Linked DNA regions of Homo sapiens: all the other regions are linked to region 1. The links come from fine-mapping of genetic effects on gene expression. A gene starts in region 1. Each other region holds a variant in brackets. All regions are shown on one strand. Distances are from middle to middle.

Region 1 (8,144 bases):
GAGTTCGAGACCAGCCTGGCCAACATGGTGAAACCCCGATTCTACTAAAAATACAAAAATTAGCCGGGCATGGTGTTGGGTGCCTTATAATCCTAGCTACTCAGGAGGCTGAGGCAGGAGAATCACTTGAACTCTGGGAGGCGGAGGTTGCGGTGAGCCGAGATCACGTCATGCACTCCAGCCTGGGTGACAAGAGCGAGACTCCGTCTCAAAAAAAAGAAAAAAAGAAATGTAGAGAGGTACCACAATGGAGAATTAGTATCTGCATCCCAGATCAAGGGCGGGAGGTAGAACAAGCGCGGGGGAGACCAAGGTTTCACTGAAGTGCCATGGCAGGAGGAAAAAGTAGAGTGGGGCTTCTTTTTCTTTAATCACCTAGGCAGTCTTCACAATCTTAATTCTTTCCTTTGTGTCGGGCAACTGTCAACACTTCAGGGCAGGAATGTTATTCTTCTCAAAAATTCTATACTCCACCCAGAGACATAACTGAAGCAAATTTAAAATAATAAAAAATGAGCAGCGGGTTATGCTTTTCTTCTAAGATGAGTTTTCCACCTCAGTTTGTTTACTCCCCACTCCAAAAGACATTAATATGTTAGTAGGGTGGGGGGGCGGTGGGGGAACAAAGGAACTTGTGGAAAACAAAATAGTCTAGGGAAACAGAAAGGATAGATCATAAAACAGTAAAATGCTGGTAAAAGCAGCATTTCAAATGAGGTTTAAAAAATCAATTTATAGCTTTGTATTTAATTTATGACAGAGTATTTGGAACAAGAAATGTGAAGGTATAGTCTTAACAGTCACTAAAGAAAGTTTTCAGTGAACATCATTTACACATTTTAAGGTAAGAGCAGTGTTATCAAATCTTTTTTTGGGGTAGGGGGCTAGGGTCTCACTGTCACCCAGACTAGAGTGCAGTTGAACAATCACGGCTCACTGCAGCCTCAAACTCCCAGGCTTAAGCGATCCTTCTATCTCAGCCTCCCGAGTAGTTGGGGCCACAGGCACATGCCACTAATTTTTTATTTTTGGTAGAGATGGGGTCTCGCTATATTGCCCAGGCTGGCCTTCAACTCCTGGGCTCAAGCAATCCTCCTGCCTGGGCCTTCCAAAGTGTTGGGATTACGGGCCACCACGCCCAGCCATTATTAGAGTCTTAATACAATACCAAAGTCTAATTCTCCACAGATCTGCTCAGCGTAATTTTTTCAAGAAGTGTTATGACCTGGCTGAAATGCTGGGTCCAATTTTCTCTCCTTTATAGATGCATAATACAAGTTTGCATTATGGCCACTCTTTTCCAAGCCCCTTGATCTTTTGGAGTGGGAAGGAGGTAAACCTATTGCAAATCTCTCCATGAAAGCCTGTTAAAGCAGAGACACGTACTTCAAGGCTCTACTCTTCAGCTCTTCCCACTTCAATTTACCCAACAACTACAAAAGTTACTTAAAATAGGTAGTTCTAAATGCTCTTCCTGCCAACAGGAGAGGCCTTTTTTAAAAGGGTAAGATTAAGGATTCCTGGAGTGTCTTGCAGGAATACACCAAATGGGACAAAGATGGATAAGGGGTGGTGGGGGGTGGGGTGTTGTCTCCAGAAGGAGTTGCTGAGCTCCAACTGTGCTGCAAATTTCCTGTTGATGTAGTTCTACCTGGGACAATGACTACCAAAGACTTGAACTGCCTGTCTTTGTAGAGAGACCTAGTTAAATGTCAAAAGCAGCACAGGGCCCGGCACATTGGCTCATGCCTGTAATCCCAGCACTTTGGGAAGCCGAGGCGGGTGAAAAGTCAGGAGTTTGAGATCACCCTGACCAACATGGTGAAACCCTATCTCTACTAAAAATACAAAAATTAGCTGGGCGTGGTGGCAGGCACCTGTAATCCCAGCTACTCAGGAGGCTGAGGCAGGAGAATTGCTTGAACCCGGGAGGCTGAGGTTGCAGTGAGCCGAGATCACACCATTGCACTCCAGCCTGGGCGACAGAGCAAGATTCTGTCTCAAAAAAAAAGAGCAGCACAAAAAAATGTCAAACTTTGAACTGCTCTACAATGACTAGTTACCATACAGTGGGAACTTGAAATAGTAGTTCATTCACTCATTCATGCCACAAGGACCTGATGCCAACTACACCAGGCACAAGGCTGGGCTCTAGGAAAACAGAGGTGAACAAGCATAATGTCCCTGCCCAATTTCGTCTTACATTTTCCTGTGACACACAATACAAAAATGAATATACAAAATGGCAGATGCTGTAAAGAAACTATGAACTTTACAGTAAAACTGAAGAATCATCACCAAAACACATGCTGTGCTTTTTCTGTTCAAAGAAGTGTGACAAACCACTTTTTGTAGAAATGTGAATTACTAGTCATCATACTTTCCTAATTTAAAACAGCACAATTTCTTCAGCTGTAGGAGGTAGAATCCCAATCTTAGAAAAAAAAAAAAAACTAACTTTTTGAAAGGAGATATTCTGCACTGGTGTAACAGCACGTCAGCACTTAGGCCAAGATTGATAACAACACTGGCCAAAAGATAAACAATTTACACAGGTGGCAAGCCATCTAAGGCAAAAGCTAAAAACAAAAACAGAGATGGACTTCTCAAGAAGTCATTTAATGTGTACTGCATACACACGTAATTTTCAAAAACAGAAAGGGAAGGCACAAAAAGTTTTGGCAGATGACACTAAATCAACAGTTTTAACATTGCTGCATTCCAGATCATTCCAATAAACAATGGTTCAACCTACTGAGAATCTAGAGACATTTCATCTCTAGGCAGAACACTGGTTTGTAAAGTTTAGTTGCTGGACCTAGGCCATGGAAAGACACAAGCAAATCCTAATGTTGAAACTCTAAATGCATTCCCACTTAGAATTAAACAGGAAAGGGAAGGTTCCTCCCCCATGTAGGAAACTGAGCCGTAATTTACTGGTTTCAATTTATAGCTATGAAGTGTGTGTGTTTTGGAGGGGAGGGAAGATGAGAAGTTGGAGAGGTTTAAGGAAAAGACACCTGCATGAGGTAGGGCAGAAGTGGACATCCTGAAGACCTGATTTCTAAAAGCAGCAGGCCTACTAGGAAAACTTAAATCTCTTTCATATTGACCGCAAAAGCGAATTTTGAGCCTGTAAGGTGGATCATGGTAGTTGCCGGTCTGCAGATACACTAGGTTGAAGACTCGCAGCACCTAATGTCACTTTTTCATGCTCACGCCCTCCCAGCGCCCAATCCGTGTTTATGGAATGAAGGGGAAAACCCAAAAGAATGAATGAACAAGAAAGGAGTCTAGTCAGGAGGATGGCCCTGGACGCGGACTAGGCGAAAGCAGGGACGATGCTCCCGGGGCCGGGAGGCGCTCGAGGACCCCCGGGCGCAGTGGAGAACGCGGACCGCGATAGGGCCGGGGGCGTAGGGCAAGACAAAGGCAGCGCGGGCGGCCAGACACGGGTGCCCGGCGGGGACGGGGACCGCGGGCGCTCACCTCATCGCCCCACTTGAGAACGTCCTTGTGCCGGTCCTTGACGGCGTGGTAGATGTGCAGGAACTGGAGGATCCCGTGCCGCCGCACGTGGTCGGCATGGCGCTTGGTTTCCTCCCAGCTCAGCGGCGAGCCCTGGGACAGCAGCCCCATGGCCGCCCCCTCCTCCTCCTCCTCCTCCTCCGGGCTGACGGCGGTCGCCCGCTCCGGGCGCGAGACGGACACTCAGCCGCCCGCAGAAGGCGGCTGCCGCTCCACCCCGCGGGGGCGCTCTCGGGCCGCAGTCGGCGGAGGGAGGGTCCTGCCCGCTCCGGCTCCCCGGCGGCGGCCCCTGGCGCCCAGGTGACAGACCCTGGGTCCGACGCACCGCGCGGAGGCGAAGGCAGAAGACCGAGAGCAGGCGGGACGGCTCTCGGCCCGGCGGCCTCGCCCTCCCCGCTGCTCCTCCTCCCGCTCCGATGCGGCGGCGGCGGACCCCACGGCCGCGCTGCCGCGGCGGCTCCCGCTTCTCTTTGCCGGTCTGGTGCACTGGCTTCTTCCTACTTGTGACCAAAACCTGCGCCGCCGCGGAGCATGCCCAGTCTTTGCGTCCGCTAGCTCGCCGCTCCTGGGCGCGATCCTGCGCTCCAGGTTTTATAGACTACGGGCGAAGGCGGGGAGAGGAGGCGGTGCAGCGGCGGAGGCGTGGCCTGAAGCCCGGTGGGAACCGCGGGGGCTCAGGAGGCGTGTGCAAGGGTGATTGGGTCGCAGTTGAGGGGAGCAGCTCGCGAGAAGGGGGCGTGCGGTCGGCCTCGCTTTACGCAAACGCGACATATCAAAATGCATTTTTTTTCCTAATCAGAAGAGATAAACTTGGGATTCGGGAAGAAAGTTGATTATTTGAATCAATGACGAACTCACCATATTATGTTTTAGTTGGACAGGGCCTCACACTTAGAGTGAGAGCGGCAGAATGTGTTGAGAAAAGTATTAACATGGTAGTGAAGTGAAACAGTTCAACTCTAGGCTCCATCACTTACTGACTGTGAGACTTGGGACGAGTTCTTCCCATATCTGCATAAAATTAGATTAATTCTATCTTTTATAGATGTCGTAATTATGTGCATAGTGTACATGTGTATAGTGTTGGCCAAAAAATTGACCTGGTTATTAAGAGGAATCAATTTGTCAACATGTGTAAATCATTATTCCCTACTGTCTTGATTAACTGGTGACCTATGTTCTCTGGATGGCACGGACACCATTTATTGCAAAAAGTCTCCAGACAGACCATATGAGGAACCATCTCCAAAAGTTTATCCTCCATCTAAACCTAAAATTCATCCCTTAAGTGATCAAAATGACGTTCTTGTGAGCCTACCGTGGGGTGGGGTTGAAGATAGTGGGAACACCTAGAGTTGGCCTTATCTCGGAGGGAAAGGAGAGGAAGGAGGTACCGTGCCCCCAAGTGATTGTTTAATAAATATGTGTTGACAGAGCAATGACCTGTCAGGGGAAAAGTGAAGGCAACTAGATCATACATGTACCTACCCAGAAAGTGTGTATTTATCATACCCTCTTCCCTCGCACTACAGAGTTAACATTTAGTAAGCACTTATTAATTGCTAAATGAGTGAGTACATGATAGCAGGATTCTCTTCTCCCACAGCCTTCATATTGGATGTGCCCCTCACAGGGCTTGGGGGCATGAATACCCAAGGTCTGGCTGGGATTTCCACAATGGTGTGTGTGTGTGTCTGTGTGTCTGTGTGTGTGTGTCTGTGTGTGGTAGGGATGTTTGAAGCTCAGGAGAAGATGTTTCCATCCTCATCACACAGGTGGGATAGAAATCAAACCACATTCTAATTTTTCCACAGCCTTTTCAACAACCTCCTTTGCCCTCCCACCAACCTCACCAGATCTGTATATGGTTCTGGCACTCTGTTGTTTTTCCTGCTTGAAATTCTCCATCTGACACACTCATGTTCATCTCTTGAGTCACAGTTATTCCTCTCTGTGTTTTGGTTGCATTCGTACATTAATGATAGAGTCATTTTAAAGATAGCTCCACACTAAATAGTGAATTCCTCTGGGGCACAGATGACTTATGCCTTTTGTACCTTTAATTCTAGAAAAGTGCTTGGTATAGAGTGTGTGCTTAATAAATGTTAGCTTCTCCGTGAAAAGCAGGTAGTGGGAGAGGGGGAGAAACAGTGTTTCCCATGTAGGTAAGACATCCAAGGATCATTGGGTTATTCTCATAATGTCATCTGACATTCTCATAGACCTGCATTGTTCAACACGACAGCCATCAGCCACATTGGCCAATGTACATTTGAAATGTGGCTAACATGACCGAGAAACCAAATTTTCATTTTAATTTAATCAATTTAAATGTAAATTTAAAAACTGATATTCCATTCAGTTACTGGAAAACTTTTAAGTAAATTTGAAACAAGTTGGAAATGTGAATCCATTTTTGACTGTAAATTTTATGAAATGTAATTACAGATCAAGTATTTCCAATGAAAACTTAGTGGCCCAGATGTGTTGTGAGTGTAAGTCACACACCAGATTCTAAGACAGTAGAATAAAAAGATGTAAATATCTCATTAAAAGTTTTATATTGATTACATAGCGATATAGCATTTTGGAAATTTTGAGTTAAATATGATGTGGTATGTTATTTAATTTACCACCACCCCCACCCACTTTTATTTTTAATTTTAAAGGAGGCTACTGAAAAATTTAAGATTACATATGTGGCTCTCATTCCACTTTATTGAAACAGTACTGATGTAGACCTTGATTTACACTTTGCAAAGCAGTTTTCCCATACACCTGCTGCACACCATACACTTTTCCCATGCACCTGTTAGGAATCATGGACCTGGGCGGTTCAATAATAGACTAAATTCTAGTCTAGCCAAAGCCCTACGCGACACTGAACCTAGTAAGAGTTTAACACTGTAATTGGAGTTACTCTGTCCTAGATCCCGGCTCACACTCACATAAGGGACCTCCCTCACCCTATCCTACCCCCCCGAATTCTGAACCAGCTCCCCCAGCGGGGGTCCCAGAGCTTTGGACAATCCCAAAAAGGGCGCCGGCGCTGCTGCACCACAGGGCAGTTATGCCCAATTTAAACCTTGATCTCTCAGTGTCTTTAGCCTTTTCTGTTACAAAGAAAAAACAAAAATCCCATCACGGATCAACTGAAGTCATATTTAACAAGAGTTACTCCCCTCTGACAATGCTTTGCCTGCATAGGTCCACTACTGCTCGATTTCATTCTGTAGACTGCACCCAGGGCCAGGTTTCGACATCTGGAAGTGAGTTTTCAGCAGACAGCTCCATCAGGGCTGTAACGATAGCTGAAGGGGAAAGAAGGAGCTCATATCTTGCAGAATCAGCTCTTCCCTAGACCATGACCAAAGGCCGATTCCCAGTAGTGTCTTCCGCGGAAAAACGCGAGACCCGCTCTCCAGGAACCCATCTCTGCCCAGCGGCGCCCTGGCACCGCAACCTCGCCTCGCAGCCCCGCGGACCAACACAGGCCCCGCCCCCAGAGCCGTCCGGAAAACCTGGACCGTGGAGATCCGCATGGGGGGACGCCGTGCAGTCGTGAGGCCAAGCTGAGCATGCTCGGAGAGCCGGCCTGTCGCGGGAGGAAGCGGTGTGGGCCGCGGGCGGCGCACGCCGCGCAGTTGTTGTGATACAGCCCCCGCCACGTGACTGCGCGGGCCCGCCTCCCCCGCGCGCGGCACCGCCTCCCCGTGACTCAGCGCTTTGTGCGGGCTCCGAGCCGGAGGTCAATCTGGGGGAGGCTTCTTAGGGCAAAGTCTCAGTCCATCACTCCTGACCTCTGGGCTGCTGCTGCTGCTAGGATTGCCGCAGTCGTTTCAGACACGATGGGTTTCGGGCCTCCAAGGACCAAAAAATACATCATTTTCTCTGTGGTCACGCCATTCCCAGTTTCCCTTGAGTCAGCGGCTTCGCGAGATCAAATAAGGAAAACAGAGAGAGTGCCCAGGGGACTCTGAGGAAGGCACTTCTAGGTTATCTGCCCCTGCCTTTACCGCTCTCTTTGGCTTGAGTATCCCTTGACCTTGGTGGTCTGTCGCTTGGGTCCCAGTATATCACATTCTATGCCAGGCACTTTGAGCTGGTATCCGTAAAACAGTACTAATCTTTGCCACATTTTATAAGTGAGGCAACTGAGATCCAGTAATACTAAGTAACAGGTAGTGGCTAAGCTGGGGTTTGAACTCCAGTGATATTTCAAAGCTGTCTACTACACCACTTAGCCTGGGTGAAGCTGGTGGCTGCCTTCAGTGTGATTCTTCCTGGGACTTGATGCCAACCTTCATTACATCCTTTCTTCTCCCTTGACACACCCTTTCCCCAAAACCCGCGGATCTGCCTGTGAAGTCCTTAAGCTTTTTGTCTGTTAAATTTCTTTCTTTTTTTTTTTTTTTTGAGATGGAGTCTCGCTCTGTCGCCCAGGCTGGAGTGCAGTGGCGGGATCTCGGCTCACTGCAAGCTCCGCCTCCCGGGTTCACGCCATTCTCCTGCCTCAGCCTCCCAAGTAGCTGGGACTACAGGCGCCCGCCACTATGCCCGGCTAATTTTTTGTATTTTTAGTAGAGACGGGGTTTTACCGTTTTAGCCGGGATGGT
Region 2 (8,144 bases), 40 kb after region 1:
TCCTCTAAAGCCTTTGAAAGGGAGCCGGTAGTCATCTCATAAGTGATGCACCATTTACCACACATGAGGAGGACTGGAGGAGTGAGTGCTCAGGGAAGCTGGTCAGCCTCCCCTTTTTAGCGTGGGTGATTGCTGCTGCCTCCTGACTCACAGTGGTTATGGGACAGGCAATGGTCCAAAGGAAAGAGGAGAGAAAAGGAGAGCAGAACCTAGCAGCACTCTACCTATTATTCTAACTCTGCATTCCTCCCCACCCAAAGTTTATGATGGCCTTTAGTGTCTCCAGGAGTTTCTCACAGTTTTTTTCTAGGGCTGATTCCCCAGGGCATCTGTGGCCTGTGCCTGATCTTGTCTGTACTTCAGGGGCCAGCAGTGGGGGATAGGTTACTGAAAGTTTTTGAGTTTTGCTGTGAGAAGATTAATCTTTCAGCAGAGTGCAATAAAAGGAGGAAGGAAACCCTGTTACTAGTTTAAGTAAGCAATAATGGAGATCTGGATTAATAGTTTGTATGTTGAAGTGAGAAGATTTTTTTTTTAAGTATAAATGATTTATTTGTTAGTTGAGCCCAAGCTTGAAGAAGCTGCTCTTTTATTTTGCCTCTTTTTTTTCTTACATATGTTTATTCTTAGCCTTTTCTTTTCTTTTCTTTCTTTTTTTTTTTTTTTGCAGTGAATTCTACAAACTAAGCACTGGAAGAATGTCGAGATGTTACAGTGAAAAAGGAAGCTAAATGAGGCCAGATTGGAGAGCAAATTGTTATTATTTAAAACTTATGGACCACCTCGAATATGCCAAGTTCTATTTAAGAAAATACAGAAACATGATTCCTTTCATTTAACAGCTGACATTTTCAGGAAGTATACACCACATTTTTGTGTGTGTTTTACTCCACATACTGCCAATATTTAAACTTGCTTAGTTTGAGGAATTTCCTCTTATTAGTTTTCTTTTTCTCAACTTTTTTTTTAGAGTGGTTCTCTTTCTTTTTTAAATTTTGTTTCTGTTTTCTTTCCTGTTTTTAAAAATAAAAATAGAGACTATGATCAAATATCATTGCATATGTTCCTATTACTGGGTTGAAAGTTGGTAACTGAAACACTACCTTTATTCTGTGATTTTTCTAAAAGCAGGCTGGATGAACTATTTGTTATCCTTTTTGCAATTGTTCAGTGTGTTTGTCTCTCCACAGAATGGTAACTGGCTGATCTCCATTTTCATTTCAGGTTAAAATCAAGGAAATCAATTTGAACTGTAGCACGCAAGTTTTATGTTAATTACAAACATATGAAAAATGTTCAGTTTTAAGTAAGATAATGTTGTTTATTTTTCCCCCTGTCTTTTATGCCTCTAATTCTGCTATAAATCATATGTAAAAAGAATTTGGTGAGACGCAGTAAGAATTCTCATAAAATGCTGATGGGAAGGAAACTTCTGCTGACCATGAAGGATACTTATAGATACAGTGTAGCTACTCCCCCTGTGCTCCCACCCCCACCATATACCAGTGGTTCTTAAACTTTAACATGCATCATAATCACCCAGAGAGTTTGTTAAAACAGGGATTGCTGGGCTCCACCTCCAGAGTTTCTGATTCAGTAAATCTGGGGCAAGCCTTGATAATGTGTTTCCTAACAAGTCCCCAACTCATAGTGACACTACTAGTCCAGGGATCAACTCTGAGAATCACTGCCATATACCAATATTTCTCAGTACTGACTGCACCTGGGGATTTTAAAGAGAATACAACTGCCAAAAATTACCAGTGCTCAGGTCTGTTCCCACTGATTCTGATTTAATTGGTTGGGAATGAGGCCAGGATACCTGTATTTTATAAAAGTTCTTCAGGAGATTCTAAGGTATACTTAGGTTCAAGAAGCACTTCCTTACACTCAATCTCCACCCGTCATTCAGAGAAACTCATGTAGTTTCTGTTTCACCTTCCATTAAAGCCTTCAATGTTAAGCTATTATCAAGATATTTTTATATAGACTGGGATGCCTATTAGTCTTAGTCACCACCAAAATGTAAGTCACTAAGTATTTATCCTCTCCCTTACTCTTACTATTTCTCCATGATTTCTCTCCACTAATCCATACCTGCTCCTACTTTGCCTTCCACCATGAGTAAAAGTTCCTTGAGGCCTCCCCAGAAGCAGACGCCGCCATGCTTCCTGTACAGCCTGCAGAGCCATGAGCCAATTAAACCACTTTTCTTATAAATTACCCAGTCTCAGGTATTTCTTTATGGCAATGCAAGAAAGGACTGATACAGGTAATAAATCATTCATTCATTCAAATAAAGTTACCATAGTGTTGGGGATACAGAAAAGAGACAGCCCCTTAAGGAGCTCAAAGTCCTCAGAATACCCTTCCTTTATTGTGATTTAGTGCCACTTTTGAAGACAAAAAAGAAGTAAGAGTCTTATTTCGTGAACATGTGGCAAATGTATGACTCATTACGTTTATGGTTCCACTAAGTTTAAATTAGGAGGAAGTTCCTAATAAGTATTTTTAAGCAAAAAATAGTTGTGATCGATTGTAAAATTAGACACAAATTATCTCATCTCTTTATGGATACCCTATGCAATGTGAATTTGTGGTCTTCCCATCATGAGGTGAATTCTATTTCTCCACCTGGTGAATTTGGGCTTGGTCATGTGACTTGATTGGCCAATGGGACATTATTAACAAATAAATGCACTGCAAGTAGAGGCTTGAAAGGTGCTTGTGCATTGTTGGGGCTTGCTGTCTTGCTGCTCTTCGAGCCTTGAGATAACCATGTGAATGAGCCTCTGGATGAAGAGAGACACAGGGTCATGCCATCCCTGTTACTCCAACTAACAAACACCAGCCACCAAACCTAAGTCGGAGGCTCTCTTAGCCCATCCAACTCCAGCTGAACCACCAGCTACCATACAGATGTGTGAGTGAGCCAGCAGCCAGCAGCTGTGCAGGCCCAGACCGAAAGAACTACCCATTGGAAAGTAGGTGTTGGATTCTTTCCAATCCACAGAACCAAGGACAATAATACATGCTTTAAGTCACTACATTTTGGGGTGCATTGTTATACAGAATATATATATTCTATTGTTATATAGAATTTTTAGTTATCTTAAAATTTTTTAAAACTTAATTTAACCTGCTGTGACTACTGGATTAGGATGATTTCAGAAAGTAAAAATAGAGTCTTAAAATGTAACATTTCTTGCAGCTGGCTGTCGGTTCTATTGAATTTTTACCTAAGGATTTAAATGAATTAGTTGA[C/T]AGAGATCTTTATTTTTTATTATCTCTGGTGCACAGCGTGAAGTTGAAGTTGGGCGAGGGGTAAAATTTTCGGTTAGTAGCTGGATGAAAGATCAGCCGATTCTCCCAGCTTTTAGTCTTGCTCTGCCTAGTACACTATCAGTCAGCATTTGCTTAAGGAGTGGTTGGTATTTACTGCTTTTCAGTTCAACAACAGGCTACTTTTTAAATATAAAAATTACCACTCTGAGTTCTATCCACCATCCACTCATCTCTCAGTCACTCATTCCTGCTATGCAACGGCTCCAAGGGATATATTCTAGGAAGCCATAATTATAGTCCTTGGCTGTAAATCCATTGGATGCAGCAGTTGTCTCTGTGCTGTCTCTCTCTCACTTGCCACTCCTCAACCCATTGTAATCTGGTTTCTGCTCTCCCATGCTAATGAAACCTTCTCACCAAGGCCACAAAGAACCTGGTATTGCTAAATCCAATGGATACTTCTCAATTTCTATTTTAACCTCTTAGCAGCATGTGACATTGTTGATCACTCCCTTCTTGAAGAACGTTACTCCCTTTGCTTCTGCTATACCACTATCTTCTGCTCTTTTTCCTGTTACTCTGACCATTCTACAGTGTCTGTTGAGGGCTCTTTTGTATCTCCCCATCTTTAAATATTGATGTTCCTTCAGCTTAGGTCCTGGGCCTTTTCCTCTTCTTCCTCTACACACTCTTCCTGTGCAATCTCCTCCCTTGCATAGCTTTGATTATCTTGTATGTATTCATCTCTTCCAAAGCAATGTCTCCAATTGAAGTCACTCTCCTGACCATCAGAAATCCAGCCATCTACTGAAAAACATCTCTTGGATATCTCTCAGGCACCTACCTCAATCTCAGTATGTCCAAAACTGAAGATTGAAACCTCCGCTTCCCCCACCCGCACACTGCTTTTTGCTCCCTCAGCTCTTTTTGTATCCCATCTGCAGTGTCTGACATGGCTGTTTACCTAGTTACCCAAGAGAGAAACCCAGGCATCATCCTTGAGTTCTTCCATCTCCAGTTCATTCATATGTCCCACCAGTTCTATCCCCATGAATAGTTCTTGTTTAAATCCAGTTCTCCTCATCCGCACAGCCACATTACCATGTTACCCAGCCCCGAGCCATCCTCTTCTCTTGCCTAGATTATGAAGCAGCTTTGTAACTGGAGCACTTGCCCCGGCCTTGCCACTTCCCCTCCATTTTCCACACAGCTGTCAGAAAGACCTTAGAATGCAAATCTGGTTATGAACGTCCCTTCTGTTAAAACTCTTTAATTTCTTTCCACTTCCCTTTGTATAAACACCCATACAGTTCACGATTTAAATTAGGGGAATGATTCATAATGTGCCTAACTCTCCAATCTAATTTCTTCCAAACTTTGTCATCTAGCCAACCTAATTTCTTTTGGTTCATCAGTGTTCTCTTCACCTCTCAGCATTTGAATATGTAGTTCCTTTTGTCTGGAATACTCTTCTCCCCTCCCTCCCCTATTTGGCTTGACTAACTCTAATTATTCTTTCAGGGTCCAGGTTACATGATCCATTTTCTGAGAAGCTTTCTCTGATGTCTCAGGTCTGGAAACCCACCCCCTCCAGCACCTCCAGGGATTTCCTCCATCACTGTTTTCTGAAATGTGTGCTTTTCTCCGGGAGGCAGACCACATGGGATTTTCTCAACTTTAAAGCTCCAGCAACTACCACTGGCCCCGGCACACATCACCCTCATAGTTGTGCTGAATTTAATTAAATGTTAGGGTTGTTTTTCCTTTCTCTCTCTTTATTTATTTATTTATTTATTTATTTATTTATTTCTCTTTCTTTGTCTTTTCTTTTTTTTTTTTAGACAGGGATCTCATTCTGTTGCCCAGGCTGGAATGCAATGGTGTGATCCTGGCTTATTGCAATCTCCTCCAAAGACCAAATCTCCCAGGCTCAAATGATCCTCCCACCTCAGTCTCCCAAGTAGCTGGGACTACAGGTATGTGCCACCACCCCTGGCTAATTTTTGTATGTTTTGTGGAGATGCAGTTTCACCATGTTGCACAGGTTGGTCTTGAACTCCTGAGCTCAAGTGATCCTCCCACCTCGGCCTCCCAAAATGCTGGGATTACAGGCATAAGCCACCGTGCCCAGCCAGAGTTGTTTTCAAGTTATCTATTTCTTGTAGCAAATTAATCTGAACATTTCACTAATGAAATTATTGTATGTGTTCTTCACTCTAATTATATATTTAGACTGTAACAATATTTTAGATAATAATGTTATTTTTCTTTATTGTGGTAATTGTAATTGGCTTTTATTCTTCCAAAGTAATTACTTTTTGTTTTAAAATATTTTCTCTCTTTGATGTATCTAGATTATGTCAATATGGCTGTCTTAAATGACCACATTAGAAAAAAATTAAAAAGGAGCCAGGGCAGTGGCACACACTTGGAGTCCCAGCTACTTGGGAGGCTGAGAGGGGAGGATCACTTAAGCCCAGGAATTCAAGTCCCAGCCTGGGCAACACAGCAAGACCTCATCTTGAAAAAAGAAAAGAAGAGAAAAAAAAGAAACAGGCCAGGTGAAATTAGTTTTAACAGTATATTTTATTTAACCCAATATATCCAAATTATTATGATTTCTTTATATAATTATGTAAAAATTAATGAGAGATTTTACTTTTTTTTCTTACTAAGTCTTTGAAATCTGATGTGTAATTTACACTTTCAGTCCACCTCATCTTGGACTAATCATTTTCAAGTGCTTAGCCACACATGGCTAGTGGCTGACATATCGGACAGGGCAGCACTATACTCTTCTCAATTCTCAAGTATTCTAATCACACAGTTTTCTTCTCCATCTTTCTCCTTCTCCATCTTTCTCCTTCTCCATTTCAGAAAATGCACGCTCCCAAATCATGTGTCTCTAAGCTAAGGCCCAGCCTTTCAAAACTGAAATGCCAAACATTTGATTCCATTGTTATTTTCACTTTGCCAGGTGTTACCTGCCCTGAAGCTTTAAAGAACAATGCCCTGGATGACTTAATCTGAAAGGGCAAGGAGAGCATGGAAATGTGAGTGGGTGCATGTGAAACTGTGTTTAAAAATATTATCCAGCCACACCTATAGTAATTTCTAGAGCTTAATTTCTCCATTTACTTTCAAGAGCCCAATTTCTCCATTTACTTTATAGAGCTTAATATCTACCTTATAGCATGTAGCAATCATGTAAATAGCAAAAAATGATTTGTTTTCTTTATAGTTTTAGTTTTGAATTGTCTATGTTGAAAATCAAATGTTTGTTTTCTAAATTTTTGTATAGTCTTGAAAATATTTTTCCAGTCTGCCAGAGTTTTTAACCTCCAAATTTGCTTGGCATGTTTCACCCCAAACTGTCTAGCATGCACTGAAAAATTATAATTTTGTAAAATAAAAGATCACAGTCGCAACTGTTTGGTGACTCCTCATGGTTTGCAGTTTTATTTTTTTTTTACTCTGAAAAGCACATGTTTATTTTTAGCATTTTTCCTTTTTTAATCTCAAAAAGATAATTAAAATCAGGAGGACCACTTGTGAAAATCTCTATGTGTAGATATTGCTAATATTCTGGACCCAGGAAAAAGATGGGTTGAGGGCATTTCTCTATAGTCAATTTTTTTTTTTTTTTTTTTGAGACAGAGTCTCACTCTGTCACCCAGGCTGGATTGCAGTGGTGCCATCTCGGCTCACTGCTACCTTCACCTCCCGGGTTCAAACAATTCTCCTGCCTCAGCCTCCCAAGTAGCTGGGACTACAGGCATGCACCACCATGCCTGGCTAATTTTTTTGTATTTTTAGTAGAGATGTGGTTTCACCATGTTGGTCAGGTGGGTCTCCAACTCCTGACCTCAGGTGATCCTCCCACCTCGGCTTCCAAAGTGCTCGGATTACAGGTGTGAGCCACCGTGCCCGGCCGAGAGTCAAATGTTTTTTAATGTTTACTAGGTACTGCGTGGCAGTCAGGCCCACAGAAGATGAGGGTACAATTTGAGAGGCACATGAGGGCTACAAACGAGAGCATGTGTGAACTGTATGAATAAGTGTTTGTGATTGGTGGGTATATGGGGCACCTTTTACATTTCACTTGGCATCAACAGGTGCAGATACGTCCTGGTAATGCCTCAGATGCACCGCATATCTCACGCTGTTCTGTTACTTCTCTGTTCTTGCTGTGTGGGTGTCCTCAGAAACCCACTGAGACATTGTGACAGATGCACACACTTGAAGTGCAAAAGAATAACACTCCAGGGGGCAATCTGACCTGGGGGATGGGAGCCAGGGTATAATATGAATGTGTATTATGCATATCTCCTTCCTCTATGCTTCAGAAGGATAATTCTCAGTGGCATTTTACACAGCTCCTCAGAGCTCCTGGTTGCCTGCAGCAGTGACTATCTTGATTATGTATCCGGGGATTGGCTCTTTCCCCAAGTTCCCTCATCTGTTCCTTGGGATCCCTTCCCCAAATAAACTGAGTACAAGCAAACCTTTGTGTCAGGCTCTGCCTTTGGAGGGATCCTGTGCTCATATAATGGCACAGAGCAATGAGTGAAAGGAAAGAACCTGGTGTGTCTCCAAGATTTGGTTTAAACAGCTTGGTAGTCAGTGGACTTAGAGATGAGACATCGAGAAATAAGAGTCGCAGCAGAATATGAGAGTGGGGAGATGATGAGTTTGATTTTATGCCTGTTAAGTTGGAGAGGCCTGTGGGACAAATAGATGGATATTTAATAGGCAGTTAAAATTATGACCCTGTAACTCAAGAGAGAGGTCAAGCTCAGGGAAGATTACAAGTTATTTGCATATGGGTGGCAGATAAAGTCTTGCTTACAGGGAAGTTC
Region 3 (8,144 bases), 100 kb after region 1:
CTCATTTATGAAATAAAAGCTTATTAGTCTCGGTTTTCTATGTCGTGAAGGTCTACTGTCCCCTCAAGTGAAGAGATGGACTTACTCAGATTCTCATCAAGTGCTACCCAACACAGCGCTTGTAACATCAGAGGATTGGCGTTCACTGAGAATGACTTGAAGGCTTCTTAGTCTGGTGAAATCAAGTCTATGTTCTCCCTGACTTTACCATATTCTGTGACCCAGGCAGAAAATCGTTTGGCCAGCTCTTTTCCCCTCCTTAAAGTATGTTGGGTCTTTATTATAAAAACAGTCACAGTCCAGGCATGGTGGCATGTACCTATAGTCCCAACTACTTGGGAGGTTCAGTTGAGCCTGGAGGTTGAGGACACAGTCAGCAGAGGATAGCACTACTGCACTTGAGCCTGGGTGACAGAGTGAGACCCTGTCACAAACAAACAAAACAAACAAAAAACAGTCATAGCAGCAGATACTAGAATCTCTGGGAAGTCTAAAAAGAGTAGAGTGCTCTCTCTAGCATTCAGACACTAGCAGAGCACGGCACAGATACTCAGGACTGCTGATTTTTGAGGCAGTCAGCAAGCTCTCCACGGTTTTAATGAGTACTGCAGCTCTGCCCCTGGTTGCCTGTATTCTGTGAGCCACAGCCAACCACACTGAACCTTGCTGAGTGTTCTGTCTTTGACCCAAACATGTGACTAAGCAAAAGGCATCAGTGGGGCTGGGAGAGGGGGAGGCCAGGCTTTATAAAGTAGTGCTCTGTAACTTTGCTCTACCCACTGCACAAATGGAAAGAGATAATGTTTGTACAATGCATTAGGGAAAAATGGAAAAGGCCGGCCACAGCCAGAGGAACCAGCCTGTGAGCTCTGGCCACTCTAGGCCCTATTTGGCCCTACATTAAACCTGGGAGACATCAAAGCAGTGCTGTGTAATACCTGTTCTCTGCATAGCGCATGTCAGGGAGTGACAGTGGCACATGCTGCAGCGGAGGACCCATGTGCCTAAAGCCCTGGGCAAGGTCATTCTTCCCTTGATTTAAAGTTTTCTTCTGCAGCCTGGAACCCTGATCTTCCTGCAGAGGTCACAGGGCTCTCCTTCCCCTCAAGACTCCCTCTTTCTTTTGTATTTGGTCAGTGCCGGCAGGCAGGGGCAGAGGACTGGATGGCTTCATCAAAGGCACTAATTTATCAAGTGGGATTTTAATTTAAGAATTCAGGGGGAATGATGGAAATTGGCAATGCCTTAACATTTCATGGATTTTCGGTGGAGCTAGTTTGTCCCTGTTCAAAACAAGCAGTCCCACATGGGGAGGCTCCCCTCCAATAGTAACTCTTTCCGTTTGTCCATTTGTGGCCCTGCCATCTCCAGCAGGCTCCCAAAGCTGTCCCAGGATCAGTCTCCATTACACCTCACCATCTTCAGAAATGTGGCTCTGTGGAGTGCCTCCAAAGCAGGAGCCGGTCCTTCTTTCAGCTGAATTTGCCACCCCTTATTTCTTTATGCAATATCTCACTCTCCTTGATATGGCTTGGTTATGTCCTCACCCAAATCTCATCTTGAATTGTAGTTCCCATAATCCCCGGGGGAAGGATCCGGTGGGAGGTAGTTGAATGATGGGGGCAGTTCTGGTGATAGTGAGTGAGTTCTCACGAGATCTGATGGTTTTATAAGGGGCTTTTCCCCCTTTTGCTCAGCACTTCTTGTTGCTGCCGCCATGTGAAGAAGGATGTACTTGCTTCCCCTTCAGCCATGGTTGTAAGTTTCCTGAGGCCTCCCCAGCCATGCTGAACTGTGTGAGTCAATTAAACCTCTTTCCTTTATAAACTACTCAGTCCCAGTTATGTCTTTATTAGCAGCATGAGAATGGACTACTGCGCTCCAAGTGTCTCTGGAAGACTCAGGCCCAGAGATTCACTGTCCATCTCCAAGGACTCTGCATTGAGTGACTTGTCCTCAGTATTTTTACCCATGAGGGAAATGAAACACCTTCAATGGAGACTGGTCTGGGGTTCCGAAGGGCACCAGGGATTGGGCTGCAAGGGTTCTGCTTCCAGGAGTCCCTGTTTATCTCTCATTTTTGAGTCAGAAAAAGGCCCCTGGGTATCTGTGTGTAGGCTCTACCTTCTCAGGTTTCCCCGTGTCTCTGAAAACATGGCTGCCCATGAGAAGTATTTAAAGAAATGAACTTTACCTATTAACTTATTTAGCTCTCATATGAGACAAGGTGATGTAATCATAATGGCTCTTAATTTCAGAATGCAAGCATAAGACCATATATTTTACACACACACACACACACGCAGAATATATGTATATATGCACACACTCACACTTAAATGATGTGTGTGTGTGTGTGTACTTAGTAAGCACTGAATAAATGCTTACTAGCTAAATGATGAAGCTAGTCCTAACCTGTTTTTGAAGAATTGGCAATTATAGAGAAGATGCATGCAATTTAAAAAATTTTAATGGGGACATAGCTATAGAGATATCAATCTTTTGAGTTTTTTTTTTTTGAGAAATGGAAAGTGTTGGTTGCATAACTCCTTCCACCTGTAATGTGTCTTAACAATTTAATTTTTGGCTTGCAGCAAGTTTGGAAAAGTCCTAGTTATCATGGTTGTGTACTTTAATGTGCTTCCCTCTAGTGATTACTGGGGTAAGGGAAAGTGTTTTGCATGCAGTAGATGCTTAATAAGTATTTGCTGATTAAATAAATGAGTAATATTGGAATAGAGATCAGCAAGCAGTAGGTCATGATGGTTTTATTGTTTCATTCACTCATTCACTTATTTACTTCACACACAAAAAATTGATCTCCTGCTATACACCAGGCATGACTCTAGACACCGGAGGTACATCTGTGAACGAGACAAAATTTTCACCTTTAAGGATGATATTCTAAAAGAGATGGCAGAACATAAATCAACAGGAAAATATCCAGAGATGGTAAGCTATGATGGCACGTAAGCATGGCGAGATTTGAACAAGGGAGGAAAGGCCACTGGGCTGGAGTTGTTGAAAGTTACAGCCTAGGCCAGAAGCACAGTGCTGAAGCCTGAAGAGGGCAGAAAAAAATATCCCAACCACTTGCTTCTGCCCTCTGACCTCCTTCTGATACCTCCCGTTGGATGAATAAAATGTTCAGCCAAAGAGCCTGAGTCTGGATGATGTAGTCCCTAGGGGACGGAGCACAGAGCAGGGCAGAGAAAGACAGAATATGATCAGGGGCATGAGGCTGGGAAATAATTATGTCTAATGAACATTTGTTAAACAACAAAGGATTCTTTTGGCATACAGAATTTTCTTTGCTACTTATATGCAGAATTGTAATGAAATAAAGCATTTTTCAGTTTGGAACTCTGCAAAAAATGGAAACGTTTCATTAATATTGCAGAATAAAACTTGAGAGACAGATTACCACCATTTAGCTTCCTTCCCCCTCTTCCTTTCAGGAATACTCTTCTGCTAATGGGGATTAAGAACAGATGCGTGTATGTCCTCTTTTAGACTCTACATGTGTTCTCTTCTCCCCAAATCGTCATGTATTGGGAACCTGCTAGTATGGCTAGAGTGGCAGGAATTAAGTCACAGATGTATCATTTTCACTCAACATTCTTTTAGAAGAGGTTAGATCAAGAAGAATTAAGACGATTCCAGAAAGAGAAGAACAAGGAGACCCAGGGAGGGAGGGGTGAGGAGGGCAATTCTTAACATTAAATGGGTTTATTTGATGGCTGTTGGGAACCAGATTTGTGCAAACACTCAAGGCTGGCAGAATACATTTAATACATGCTCTTGACCTGTAAGGGCACTGAATTGAGAAAAGGCTACAAGAGTTGTCTGGGCTTGTTCTTCAGAAGAAAAAAGGCAAGGTATAATAGGGGAGCTGAGTACATGTCTTGTGACCCAGGAAAGGGAGAGAAGAGCATTGTTATGGTGTGATCAGGGCCAGAGCAGTGTGGCTGAGGGGAGGCAGTTTGACTGGGAAGCTCTTTGCTCCTTTGGTAACCAGGTATGAAGATGACTAGCCATTCATTGTGCAGAGACAATGCTATATGAAAACTTTACTTTTCCTCCTGGACATGAAGACCTTTTTCTTAGCTCCCTTTCATCTAAGTAGGCCAGATGGCTGTTCTGGCCAAAGAGATGTAGACAGAATTCAGCACAGTGCTGAAGCCTGGAGAGGGCATACATCATGTCTATACCTGGCCTAGCGAAAAAAGATCCTGCCTAGTTTCCCACTGTAATTGAGAGTGGAGACATCCCCAAGATTGTTGTGGGAGGCTGTACAAATCTGTAGGGAAGCTTGGAGTAATGTGGGAGTTTAAAGAAAATGCAAAGAAACTCTGAGGCATCTGGCTGGTCTGCTCAAAATTTGGACTGTGGCACCAGTTGTTTTGTGTTTGAGGCTATCTAGTCTATTTATATGATTACAGGGCTTGGAGAAGTTTAAGAAAAGCATTGCTGCCATTTAGAATTTCCTAGATTTGATGGCCTCAACTGAATGTTATTATTTAAGTACTACATTAGATCAAAGGTTGAGCATCTTATGTTGGTTACATTTTACTTGCTCATTTGGAGGGGTAAGGTAGAAGAGAAAGGCTATAAGGGATTGTCTACACAACAATGCGATTTTATTTCCTAAAACGTTTTGTTGCAAATGATGATGAACCTGTGACAAGCTGGCTGTGGTCAGGGTGGAAACAGGAA[G/A]AGAAACCACACTTAACCTACGACTTCTAAATAGTCGGGGCTGAGCTAGACCAGAGTTGGGCTTTTCTTTGAGTTACAAAGCAAGTCTCTACTGATGTTTTATACCTTTTTCTTTCACTAGTCTTCAAGCTGTTGAAACATTTTTTCAATTACTTGTCATTTGCTGTTGTTTTGTCTAGGTGAATCATCACGAAAACTAAGTAGAGAAAAAAACAAACACCCCAATCATCAGAGAAAGGATATTTCAAAACTGTCCATATTTAGTCATTGACTAAGGTCTTATTGAATGCAGCTTTATTGATAGTGATGAGATTACAAAATAACACTACATACATTTTAGTTTGTTGTTCCTTATATAGTACCAGAATGTTTTAAGCAAAGAAAGAAATTTTTTTGCCAAAATTTGCTGAATAAATAAAAAGTTTTTAAAGAATATCCAGGACAAATAATTTATTTCAAATTCCCTGAGAGGGCAAATTAAATGGTCTTTACCCAGTGAATGTGCTGGAGGGTAAATCTTTAATATTTTAGATTGTTTAATTCTTATAATTACGAATAAAGGACTGTTTGGAAAATTATTCTGTAGGTTTTTTGGCATGAAAAGAAATACTGAAAAGTATTTCCTTTTAATGCTGCCTTGTGCTGGAGAACATATTCATCAGCGGCTGGAATAGGGATGTAGTTCATTCAGAGATTACATAAATTCATTTGGTTGTAACTAAGGGAAAAAAATTAATGAGGTGATTTTAGTTTATTTCGTCTCGTAACTTGGATGAGTTCTGAAGACACTTGGCCAGGATAACCAGCAAAAAAATAAAATTAAAAAATTGACCTTTTAGAACGTACATATTTCCAGGTAAACCTCTATTTACATGTGTATTTGTAAAATACACTTACTACAACTGCTGCTTTACCTTAAATCATAGAACCATTCAGTACTCACTTCCTCATGACATCAATTATACCTCCTCACTCATAACACTTCACTACCATCTAATCATGTTTTAAAATTATACGAATCTGTACCATCACTGACCTTCTATTCAAAACCATTCTTACAACATAGGAAGTAAAAATAAAATTCATTCAATGCACTGAAAGCAACTAATGCATCAGGGATGACAACTTGGCACCAAGAACCTAACTAAAAATGGACAAAGTATGTTAAAGTTTGGCTTCCTGGAGACTTTCTCATCAGGTCTCTGGCCCATTTAGAAAAAGAGAGCTTGAATTTTATTATTTCAGTTGCTGGGTAACATGCAATTTCCCTGATATATTGAACTGATGCTTTTATTTGATCACAGGACTCAGCCGTTACAAAAATAACAAGTCATTTTCTTTAATAAAAAATAAAAGGAAGTATATGGTTGGGTCCTAAGACTCTGGAGTAATTGAATGTAAGCTTAAAACATACTAAATATTTTCCACTTGGGAAATCTGGAGAAACTAGGTTTCTAGGAGCAACTGCTTCAATAGTTGGTGTAAAGAATATGTTTCACTTACACATGAAAGTGGACACATATTATTTTGATTCTGCATACTTTTATGTCTTTCAATTGGCAATGCAAGATGTTCCAGGATATGAAACTTTCACCGACCCTTACATTCCATACTCCTCGCCAATGTGTTATGTCAGAAATTCTGACATTCCAAATTCATATTGGTCTTTATTTTCCTAACTGTTGAAGCAGAAGATAGAACAGCAATGCACCCAAGAGTCTGGTAAGCTCAAATATGTGGATTTTCTGAGTCTTCAGATAAACAATGTAGAAAATAAATTAAATGGTAATTTTAAATGATTTATCCAGCACTAACATGTCTCCAGTTTCATCTCTAGAAAGCCACTGCCAAGTTTTTGCACAACCTAATTTATCAAGCTTTGATAGATGAAAAATCCTCTAGTTTCAGTATCTCTTCTCATTATTCCATCATGTAATGTTGCAATTGATTGATTCTCATTTCATTTCAAGCCCTAGGTCCTCCTCTTCATACAATACTTCTAAGATGTCAATGGGAACACATCTATTGGTGTGCATCAAGGAATTACATCTATTCACTCACTTATGATCTGTAACCCACAATAAAACACCCTTTTCTCCAAAAATTAACCATATACTATAGGCTTCTCAGTTGTATGAGTGTGTGCGTATACACACATATACATACACCAAGGTAATATACCATATCCACATATACCAAGGTAAAAGATTCTTTGTGTGGGATAAGGAAACAGCCCAGCGCTTTTACATTAATAATATCTTGTTCTTAATTTACAGCGTTTGTAGCCCTTACCTGAGTGTTATCATTAAATATCCAGAGATTGAACTTTTCATCGGGGTAATGATATAAAATTGTTCCACAAAGTGTACTATATGAACCACTTTTCACAGTTCAAATAACATATTTTAGAAATAAATATCATAACTAGCAATAACCTATCTACACAAGGTGGAGAGGATGAGATTAACAAAAACCAAATTATATTTCCATATATCTCATGTTCAATTCCTAAATAGCTTGTTTTATTTTTCAAAATCCAATTGCACATAACCCATAATTGATAGGCCACTTCCTCTCCAAAACAAATAAACTGTCAAAGAATAAAGTGATAAATTATAAAAAAGGAAAATATGTATCATTTACTACAGTCATTCCCTTTCCCCAAAACTTGGCAAACATATAGGAAAAGTGCTATCAAGTGGGTACACTTTGATTATAAATCCAAAGCTCATTTGGAGCAGATGAGATTAATAAAAATAGGACAGAATGAGTATATATTTTTATATACGTGAGATGAGTGCTTGATTTTTACTTAAGAAATCAGGAGGATCCATATTAAATGGGAAACAATGGCATTTATCAACAGGAGAACCCATTCATCCAGTTACTACCAAATCTACAAATTCCAAATGTTTCTATCATTCTTATCATATAAAAGATTGGGGCAAATAAAATTATTGTTATTGGTTGTGTAAACTTCAAGCTCTCTAAGCTTAAGGCTAATGGTCCTTAGGGACATAGTTTTATTTGGTGATCTTCGCGGGGTGTACATTAGGGCCAAGGTTGCCTTTAACCAGGTTGGTGTAGTTTTTAGGGTGAGGGTAAGGCTCCCAGGGTATGTGAAATTCTTCTTTAATAGAGGACAAGGGATAAAATGCAAATCCTTCTAGTTGAAACAACCAAATGACTTAAATTTATGCTATAAATTAAATGATTCATATCAATTACTTCATTGAGAGCATGATTTTATGGTAGAAAATAAACTGGGGCCTGAGGCATGGAGGAAGAGGAATGTCCGCTAACACAAAGGTTATCAAATTTAGGGTCCCTGGGTGGAATCCCTATTCCTTTTCGGTCAGATCTTGTTTTAAGCTTTATTACGTTGTCATGGGATATCTTTCAAAATCCTTTACTCAATCACATATGGG
Region 4 (8,000 bases), 40 kb before region 1:
TCATAGGTTGTCATATCTGGAATAAGGTTACAGCCCTCCCAAGGGCAGAAGATCACTGCTGTTTTACCCATCTGGTGCCTCCGGACATGTAGACTCACTCATGAAACCGAAAACTGTTTTATTTGTGAATTCTCTGTATCTCCAATGACTTTTTAAGACTCTCAAAGCAGAATTTAAAAAACGTTTTAGTAGTAATCCCTTATTTTCTATAATGAAATCTTATGTGGGACCTCAATATATACAACAGTGACCAGTTAGAGGGCCAGGCTGACATGGGACAGATGGTACATAAGCTCTCTTGATTACCAAGTCTCCTCCCATATTCATTATGCAGGGAGTGCGATTGTTATGGTTTCATTTTTTAAGAGACACACAGGACCTTCTGAAGAATCTAGATACTCTAGGAGCATACTCAAATAAATAGTATACATTCCACCATGGCTGTGAACATCTGCTTTCATTATTAATATTTGTTTCTTTTTTCCTTAGTCTTGAAAAAAGTTCATAACGACCACTTATAATTTGTGCTTTGATGACTTCCTTTCAAAGTATATTTTACTTTGCTCTTTAGATACTCAATGACTTAGATTTAAAATCTTTTTGTTAAGACATTTAAAGCTATAATTTTTCCTTAGACATCAGCTCTGCCAGCATGTCTTTCACTTTCCTACACAATCTGTAATTCTAGTTTTGGTTAATCTAAAATCTACTTGGAAAGACATTTTTAATTTCCAATGTTAAATTTCTCCAGAGTATCTCTTTCGTTGAATTTTAGCGGGAACGCATGCTGTATTATGTCTACTTTTGAGAAGTGAAGATTTTCTTTAATTTTTGTAAATCTTACTCATGGCATTTGAAAAAAGATGTGGTATGAGATACGTAATATACGCATACAACCAAGCTTATTAACCATGCCTTTAATTCCCCCATGGCCTTTCCCATCCTTTGATTATATGGCCTGTCAGTTACTGAGTAACATGCAAGGTACTCTGTTAAGTGGTTTACCTCCATTAATCCCCACACGGGCTTACAACAGCCTACTTATTCCCCTCTGGGATACATGTGGGAAACTGAGGCACTGAGAATAAGTCACTTGTCCAGGTTAAAAGCCTAGTAAATAGTACCAGGGATTTATGCATTTAGTTCTCACATCAAAGCCATGTATTACCCATCACACTAAACTCTTTTCATGTTACATTTCATGGTACAAAAAGGACCACAGCTTTCACATCATCTTGGAAGAATATATAAAACTGCTTTCTCTATCCCATTTAATAATTTCTACCTCACATTTTGCCTGATATTGCTTTGCCATTCCTGCTATCATTCCAAAAGGTCACTATGCAGCTCTTGTCGGCATCTGTCCTTGTTCTACGTACATCTTATGCAAACTGTGTTGCTATTTTATATTATCTGTTTCAGCTGTTTAATAGGATAGAGTTTAGTCTATTCAAATTTGTTTTCATTTTATTTTCACCACTTTATGTTCTATGGGCTATTGTTTCATCACTCCCCTGGCCCCACACCCAATTTTGTGGCACTGAAATGTATTTGTGGTTCATTTTGCCACCCTTTCGCCAGCAAGTTTAAAAGTAATAAATCCTGTTTCTATACTATTAATAGTTTTCCTTAAAGAGGTAGTTTTGAAATTATAACTCTCTAAGTGTCAAGCACTAATGAGTATCTACCATTCATCTCCTTCCATATCCCCTTACAAGGTGCTATGGTCTGAATGTCTGTGTTCCCTTAAATTCATACACTGACGCCTAATGCCCATTGTGACAGTATTAGAAAGTAGGGCCTTTGGGAGGCAATTGGGAGGACCTCCTTTGGGAGGTCATGAAGGCCCTACCCTCATAACTGGTATTACGAAGAGACATCTGAAGAGCTAGTTAGCTCCTTCCACCATGTAAGAACACAGCAAGAAGGCACCATGTATGAACCAGAGAGCAAAAGCTCTCACCACACACCGAAACTGCCGGTGACTTGATCGTGAACTTCCCAGCCTCCAGAACTGTGAGCAATACATTCCTGTTGTTTATAAGCCACCCACTGTAAGGTATTTTTGTTACAGCAGCCCAAACAAACCAAGACACTAGATAAGACTTCTGGCATACTTTTAGCCCTAACTTGATCCATTCAGTTTTGTTAGAATCACCTGAAATTTAAAGAATAATTTGGCTGAGAAGATAATTCTGTGGTTGTTAATTCTTTACCTCTCGAGATTCTGAAAACTTCTTTCCATCTAGCATTTAATGTTGCAAATGAAAAGTAATATCAGTTGATTTTCCCCCCTTTTCATGTCTCCTAATTTTTTCTCCTGTCCGGACAGTTAATTTTCTCTTTGAGATTAATAAATGCCTACATTTGAGTTAAATATTTGTCTCATCCTTAAGGAAGACTTATTAAGGAAAAATTCTATTATTTCTTTGATTATTGTATATCTTTCCTATATAAACTATTCTCCTCTTCTAAATTATTACACAAACATTGAATTTTCCAGAGCTTTCCATGCTTCAGGATTTCCATAATTTCCATTTCTTCACCATCCTGCTGGGATTAATCTTCATTTGGTCTTTTAAATCACTACCTTGGATATTCAACATCTGCTCTACTGGTGAGAATACTCACCATTAAATAAGCACAATCTATAATACTTGTTTTATGGATGTGACTGAACCTCTCTAGAATTTGTCTGAGGCCACTAATTAGAATTCCTTTAAGAACTCTTTCCAAAGCTGAGCATGGTGGTTTGTGTCTGTAATTCCAGCTACCTGGAAGGCTGAGGCAGCAGGAGGACGATCATTTCAGCCCAGGAGTTCGAGACCAGCCTGAGCAACATAGTGAGACCCTGTCTCTAAAAAAGGTTTAAAAGTATTTTTTAAAAAATAGTAATTCTTTCCAGTTGCTTTTTTTTTTCAAGAGATGGGATCTGGCAATGTTGTCGGGGCTGCACTAGAATTCCTGGATTCAAGCAATCCTCCTGCCTCAGCCTCCTGAGGAGCAGAGATTATAGATTTGCGCTGGGCCCAGCTTACTTCCTTGAAGTAACTAAGTTTGACTTTACAGAGTATGCCCTTGCAAGACCAGTAGGCCCTTCTCTTTAAGGCTGTTAATTGTTCTCAATTTTCTGTTGCCTTCCAAGCATCTATTCTTATTTATAAGCAAAGGCTTAGACTGGTAGCTTACATGGAATCTCTCTTAGATGGATTTGGTCTCCCCAGTAGGTAGGCATGAGGGCAATGTGGGCCCACAGAGTTCTGTGGGTGACCTTTGGTCTGGGTGTGAGGAGCAGGCAGGGATGGGCTGACAGCCAGATTTCCTTCAGGGGGTGTGGGGATGAGCACAGTCTGGCAAACCCCTCATGGAGGAAGGAGATGCCCCAGGGGCAGATGCTGGAGCTAAGCAGTTTCATTCTTGCTTCCATGTTTGCTGTGACAGGGCTACCCTACTTCTCCATTCTCTGGCCCCGAAACCCTCAACCAGGAACCCCTGCGGCAGGGCCCTCTCTATTTAGCAGTTTTTCCCAGCCACTCTCTGCCAAGAGGAACCCTGGCCCAGAAACCAAAGGCGTTCACCTCCTCAGCTACTGCTCCACAACCCACAGCTCTGCTCCCTCATCACCTGGAGTTGTTTTGCTGGCAAACTCCTCCCAGAAAGCTTGTTTTTTGGTCTTTTGGGGGGCAGATTAACTCCAATTTGTTTTTCTGAGAGTTCAATCCCATCCGAATTCTTCAGAAATATCTCAAGTTCAGTTCTACTGAGGAGACTTTTACCGGCATTCCAGCAGTTACACTTTCCCTCCCCATCCTAATTTAACATTGTAATCAACCTGGGATTTTGTGGTGGATGAAATCAATGTGTAGGACTACTTCTAGCCATCAATCATCTTGAATGGAAAGCGTCTAGAAATTAAGCTTAGGTTTAAAAGAAAATAAAGAATAGGGCTGATGGAGAAACATTTTATTGCAAAGGGTAAACAATTTCAAATGAAAT[T/C]AGGTGGGAAATAAATAGCATATATAAATAAATATATCTACAGATAGATCTATACCCATCACCATAAAGAAACATATCCTTACCTTTGACAGTGGAATGAGAAAATCCAATTTGTAGGAAAGGATCACTCTGGTGAGCAGTACCACAAACACCACATAGGCAGAGTTCTCAAAGTCTGTTAATTGCACCTAGACAAGCAGAAGCCCAGAGAAGTTATGAACCAACTACACAAACATGCTCTTCCCTGACCCAGGCCCTTCCTCAGATCATGTCATTCCCAAGCCATCTCCTAATTCCCCATCTGGGTCTGGAAGCCCTTTGCCCACATCTATTCTCAGAAATCAACCCTCCTTAACTTGGACTGACTTGCTACCATGCACATACTTAATTTTTATTTTATATATAAGAGCCTTCTCATAGCAGCATCAGAAGGGTGATGAACAGCTGGCGAAAGAGTACTTTTGAGTCAGTTCTTGCTGATGCATGTGTCTTACCTCCATGGGTCGAAATTCTACTCTCCATCCAATGTCTGAGTTTGGAGGAGGGGGCTTAAATCTCATTGTCTGCCAATTTGTGGACTGAATATTCTGTGATACAAAAGCAGAGAAGAAAACCAACTTTTCACACATCCAGGAAAATATTAAGATGATCTGGTATTTAATTAAGGAAGAAGACTGCTCACTGTCCATACCAAATTTCAATTGACAAAGACAAAAAGGTACAATTGAAGATTTTCTTCGAGTGTGCTCTTTTAGGAAAACAAAACAGCCAAGTGTTTAACAAAAGCTATGAGGCCCTATCACTGCAAGCTTAATCTCACCCAGCTCCTACTCCCTATCTCCCAGCTACAGAGCAGCATCTGAAGAGCCACGGGGCCCCCACCTTCATCCCTGAGAATTTTAGGAGCCAGCCTGCCTTTCCAGGTGACACTGGACACTTTCATCTGAGAACCCTGTCACATGACAGTTGTTTCCTTTCTTCCTCCTCTCCTGGGAATGCTGCTGCTTCGATGACCCAAGAGCCTAAGAAGGGTAGCTGTTTCTCAATACACTGAGAGAGAGTTCTTTCTCCGTCCTGACCATCTTGGGACCCGATGGCAAGACTGGAAGGATTTATATCTCCTTTTGTGAGTTTGGTGGGGGAAAGAAAGGGGATATAGATGGTATTTCAAAAGGTATATATGTCAATGTCTACATATAACATGACACAGAAATAAATCTATGAGAAGTCTATCTACAAAAAAAAAAGGTGATATGTCTGAAGCACTGAAATAACTGATCAGGTTATTTTTTGTGCAGTGTATGTTTGAATTTTTCACCACTAGGCAAATAAGAAAATACTGAACAATAAAAAAAAAAATTAGAATCAGTGAGATAAACAGTAAGAATCGTAAAATAAGAGTACTTGAAACCGATTTTTTATTTGTCCAAGTTCTTTACTGCACTGGGTAAATGAAAGTCTTATGAAATTTCTTTTGTGTTCTCCACAGGTACAGAAAACTGCCTCCCCATGTTGGTTTGTGAAGTGAAATGCATATAAAACAGAGGATTCCAGACTCTCAGAAGTCAATACATAAATAAATAAAAATAAAACTGAGAAGATACCTCAAAATGGTCAGACTCATTAGCATCATCCAGGTGTATTTTCTCTTCAAACAGTGTCAGTGGGTCTCTAATAAAGAGATGAGCAACATGCTGGGCCAGGAGATGATCAATGCCTGCAAAAAGAGATCACATGGGAACTCACTGCAAAGCGAGAGATACCACTTCCTCTTAGTCCAGAAAGACGACAGGATAGCTCAGGAAGTTTGAAGAAAGGGTGTCTAGAAGCTTGAAATAGCTGGTTTGATTAGTATCCTCACCTCACCCAGTATTTTATCCTGCGGACACTGCGGGAGTGTCAGCGTTTTATTCACTACTTACACAATGCCTGCTGGGGCACTGGTGTGGACCTAGACACAGACCTCCAAAGTAAGCTCCTTTTGCTAAAAATCAAGAAAATCTCACAAGTATTTGGAACCTGAAACTTTAGGAACAAGTAGCCTCATGAGAGAAGTTAAAGACTTTGCACTAAAAATAGAAACCAGACCAGGAGTCAGCAAAAAAGTGTAAAAGAGCTTTGAAGAACTAAAGGCGTACATTCAAACCCAGAAAGATGGAGTAGAAACCCACCTTCCTGCAACAGCTGTTCGTAGATCTCTTTATCTATCGTCAAGTCGATGTCATTATATTTCTCACCACACTTAGATAAATAGCTGTCTATTGAGTCATATCGGGATTTACTGATCCTATAGTTATTGTTCTTCAATGGCTAAAGATTAAAAATATATATAAATGAATATGCTATATAAAATGAGTGGAATATATTTTTATATATGATAATTATATAAAAACCTCAACATAAGATACAGAAAAAAAGTTAGTGAGCCCTAAAAAGTATTATTAAGGAAAATTATGTTTTTTAAAATCTGAAGGCAATTTAAATACCCTTTTTTTCTGGTATGATTTAAATATACTTTTATCTTTTAAAAGCAGATCACTTTCATTCTTATTAAGCTAGGGAAAATAAATACTAAGGTTAAAAGCAAATAAATAAATAAATCTATAACGTAAGATAAACCTATCAAAATAATTATCCTTTAAAGTTTATTTCTACTTAGAAAGCATGTTCAACAATTTATGAACAATTACATGAAGACCAGAGCAGTAGTAGTATAGCCCTGGTTGAGAATATCAAAACCACTTATGAGGGCTCCTTTAAAAACACCCTTGTTCGGGTCCCATCCTAGAGATTCTTATTTAGTAGGTCTAGGATAGGGTCTGGGTGTCTATTTTCAAAGATTTCCATGGGTGGTTCTGATGCACACCCCTTGTTGGAGAGATGCAAGGGTTACTTTACAGTTCAACATGCAAACAAGAGGTGCCATCTCACCCTTATTAGTCAATGCCTAACCTTTTACATGGAAAAAGAATCTCTGACAACAAATTATACTTTCCACAGCAGAAAGCACCATATACAAAACACTCATGTGGCACCAAAAAGCCTTTTGGTAAAAACAGCCATCAGCACTTCCAAAATATAGAAAAATCGGACTACTAATTTTAAATGAAGCTAAAACAAATACAGACATCAACATACGATAAAAATTAACTCCCCACCTAGACCAAATCTTTTTCCCCATTTCAGATAAAAATTGCAGGGAGACATCCTGAAATTGCAAGTAGTTACAAAAGATCCATTTTACCTGCTTGACTTAAAAGGGCTATTAAGGAAAAACAATTCCCACCTCCAGTCCTCGCTCCTCCCGAGTTCTATCATCTACAGATGCAGAAATCACTCCCCAGCGACAATCAATGTCTGACACATAGCCTCGGTAAAAGGGAGATGCAGCACTCAAAGCCATCTAAAAACAAACAAAAGTCAGCTCCTGCAAATTCAAAGTGTCACTTACATGCTAAAAAAAGCTCCATGCAGTTATATTTCTGATCAAAAAGCATGTTTATGCAACCCATACAGAGCACATGTACCTGTGCCTATCTTACAGTGAAATATACCAGGAAGAATCCAGTTCCTTGGGTTTGATTCACTTAAATCATCCTCTCTCTAATGTGAGGACATGAAGTATGGGGGAGGGAAAATGGCCACATTCAAACTTCACATTTAACAAATCAATGTTGTACTAGCAAGAGTAAACTTCTACAGTGTAGACTCTCAGTTCATTATACCTAAACCTACATACTATTTATATTAGTCCATCTCTGACTGAGGTCTTAACTGGACTTAAATAGCACACTGTCAGTAAATTCTGCACATGCTATCTTATTTCATACGAAGTAGTATTTAAAATAAGAGGTAATTTCTACTTACAACAATTGGACAGATAGTAGCCAACTGATCATAAAGGTATCTGGCCTCAGATATACTGCAGGCTTGGAATGTCACCTGTTTAAGAATTGCAAAGTTATTAACACCAAGGAATCATTAGCATGCTCCCCAAGCAGTGA

Evidence for each region. PIP is the estimated chance that this variant, and not a neighbour inherited with it, causes the effect.
Region 2: its variant is fine-mapped to the expression of GCLC in whole blood (TOPMed, PIP above 0.99). The same link has a PIP of 0.9 or more in blood mononuclear cells.
Region 3: its variant is fine-mapped to the expression of GCLC in whole blood (TOPMed, PIP above 0.99).
Region 4: its variant is fine-mapped to the expression of GCLC in whole blood (INTERVAL, PIP 0.97).

Annotation. Positions count from the first base shown.
Region 1 is chr6:53,541,007-53,549,150 of GRCh38, forward strand. It overlaps GCLC (glutamate-cysteine ligase catalytic subunit), which reads right to left and starts at 4,095. Exons shown (of 16, transcript NM_001498.4): 1 at 3,490-4,095. The coding sequence starts at 3,639. RefSeq lists enhancers at 1,203-1,840, 2,779-3,520, 3,359-3,418 and silencers at 3,639-4,068, 7,136-7,365.
Region 2 is chr6:53,581,202-53,589,345 of GRCh38, forward strand. No RefSeq gene overlaps it. Among named protein-coding and RNA genes, the nearest start is that of KILH, 12 kb to the left of the region's middle. The variant C/T (reference allele first, on the strand shown) is at 3,265.
Region 3 is chr6:53,642,928-53,651,071 of GRCh38, forward strand. It overlaps KLHL31 (kelch like family member 31), which reads right to left. Exons shown (of 3, transcript NM_001003760.5): 3 at 4,989-8,144. Among named protein-coding and RNA genes, the nearest start is that of LINC01564, 19 kb to the left of the region's middle. RefSeq lists an enhancer at 544-838. The variant G/A (reference allele first, on the strand shown) is at 4,717.
Region 4 is chr6:53,501,313-53,509,312 of GRCh38, forward strand. GCLC (glutamate-cysteine ligase catalytic subunit) reads right to left here. Exons shown (of 16, transcript NM_001498.4): 7 at 7,864-7,938; 8 at 7,283-7,399; 9 at 6,168-6,306; 10 at 5,601-5,713; 11 at 4,491-4,583; 12 at 4,080-4,184. GCLC-AS1 (GCLC antisense RNA 1) reads left to right here. Exons shown (of 5, transcript NR_183318.1): 4 at 4,842-5,122; 5 at 5,486-5,599. Among named protein-coding and RNA genes, the nearest start is that of GCLC, 40 kb to the right of the region's middle. The variant T/C (reference allele first, on the strand shown) is at 3,997.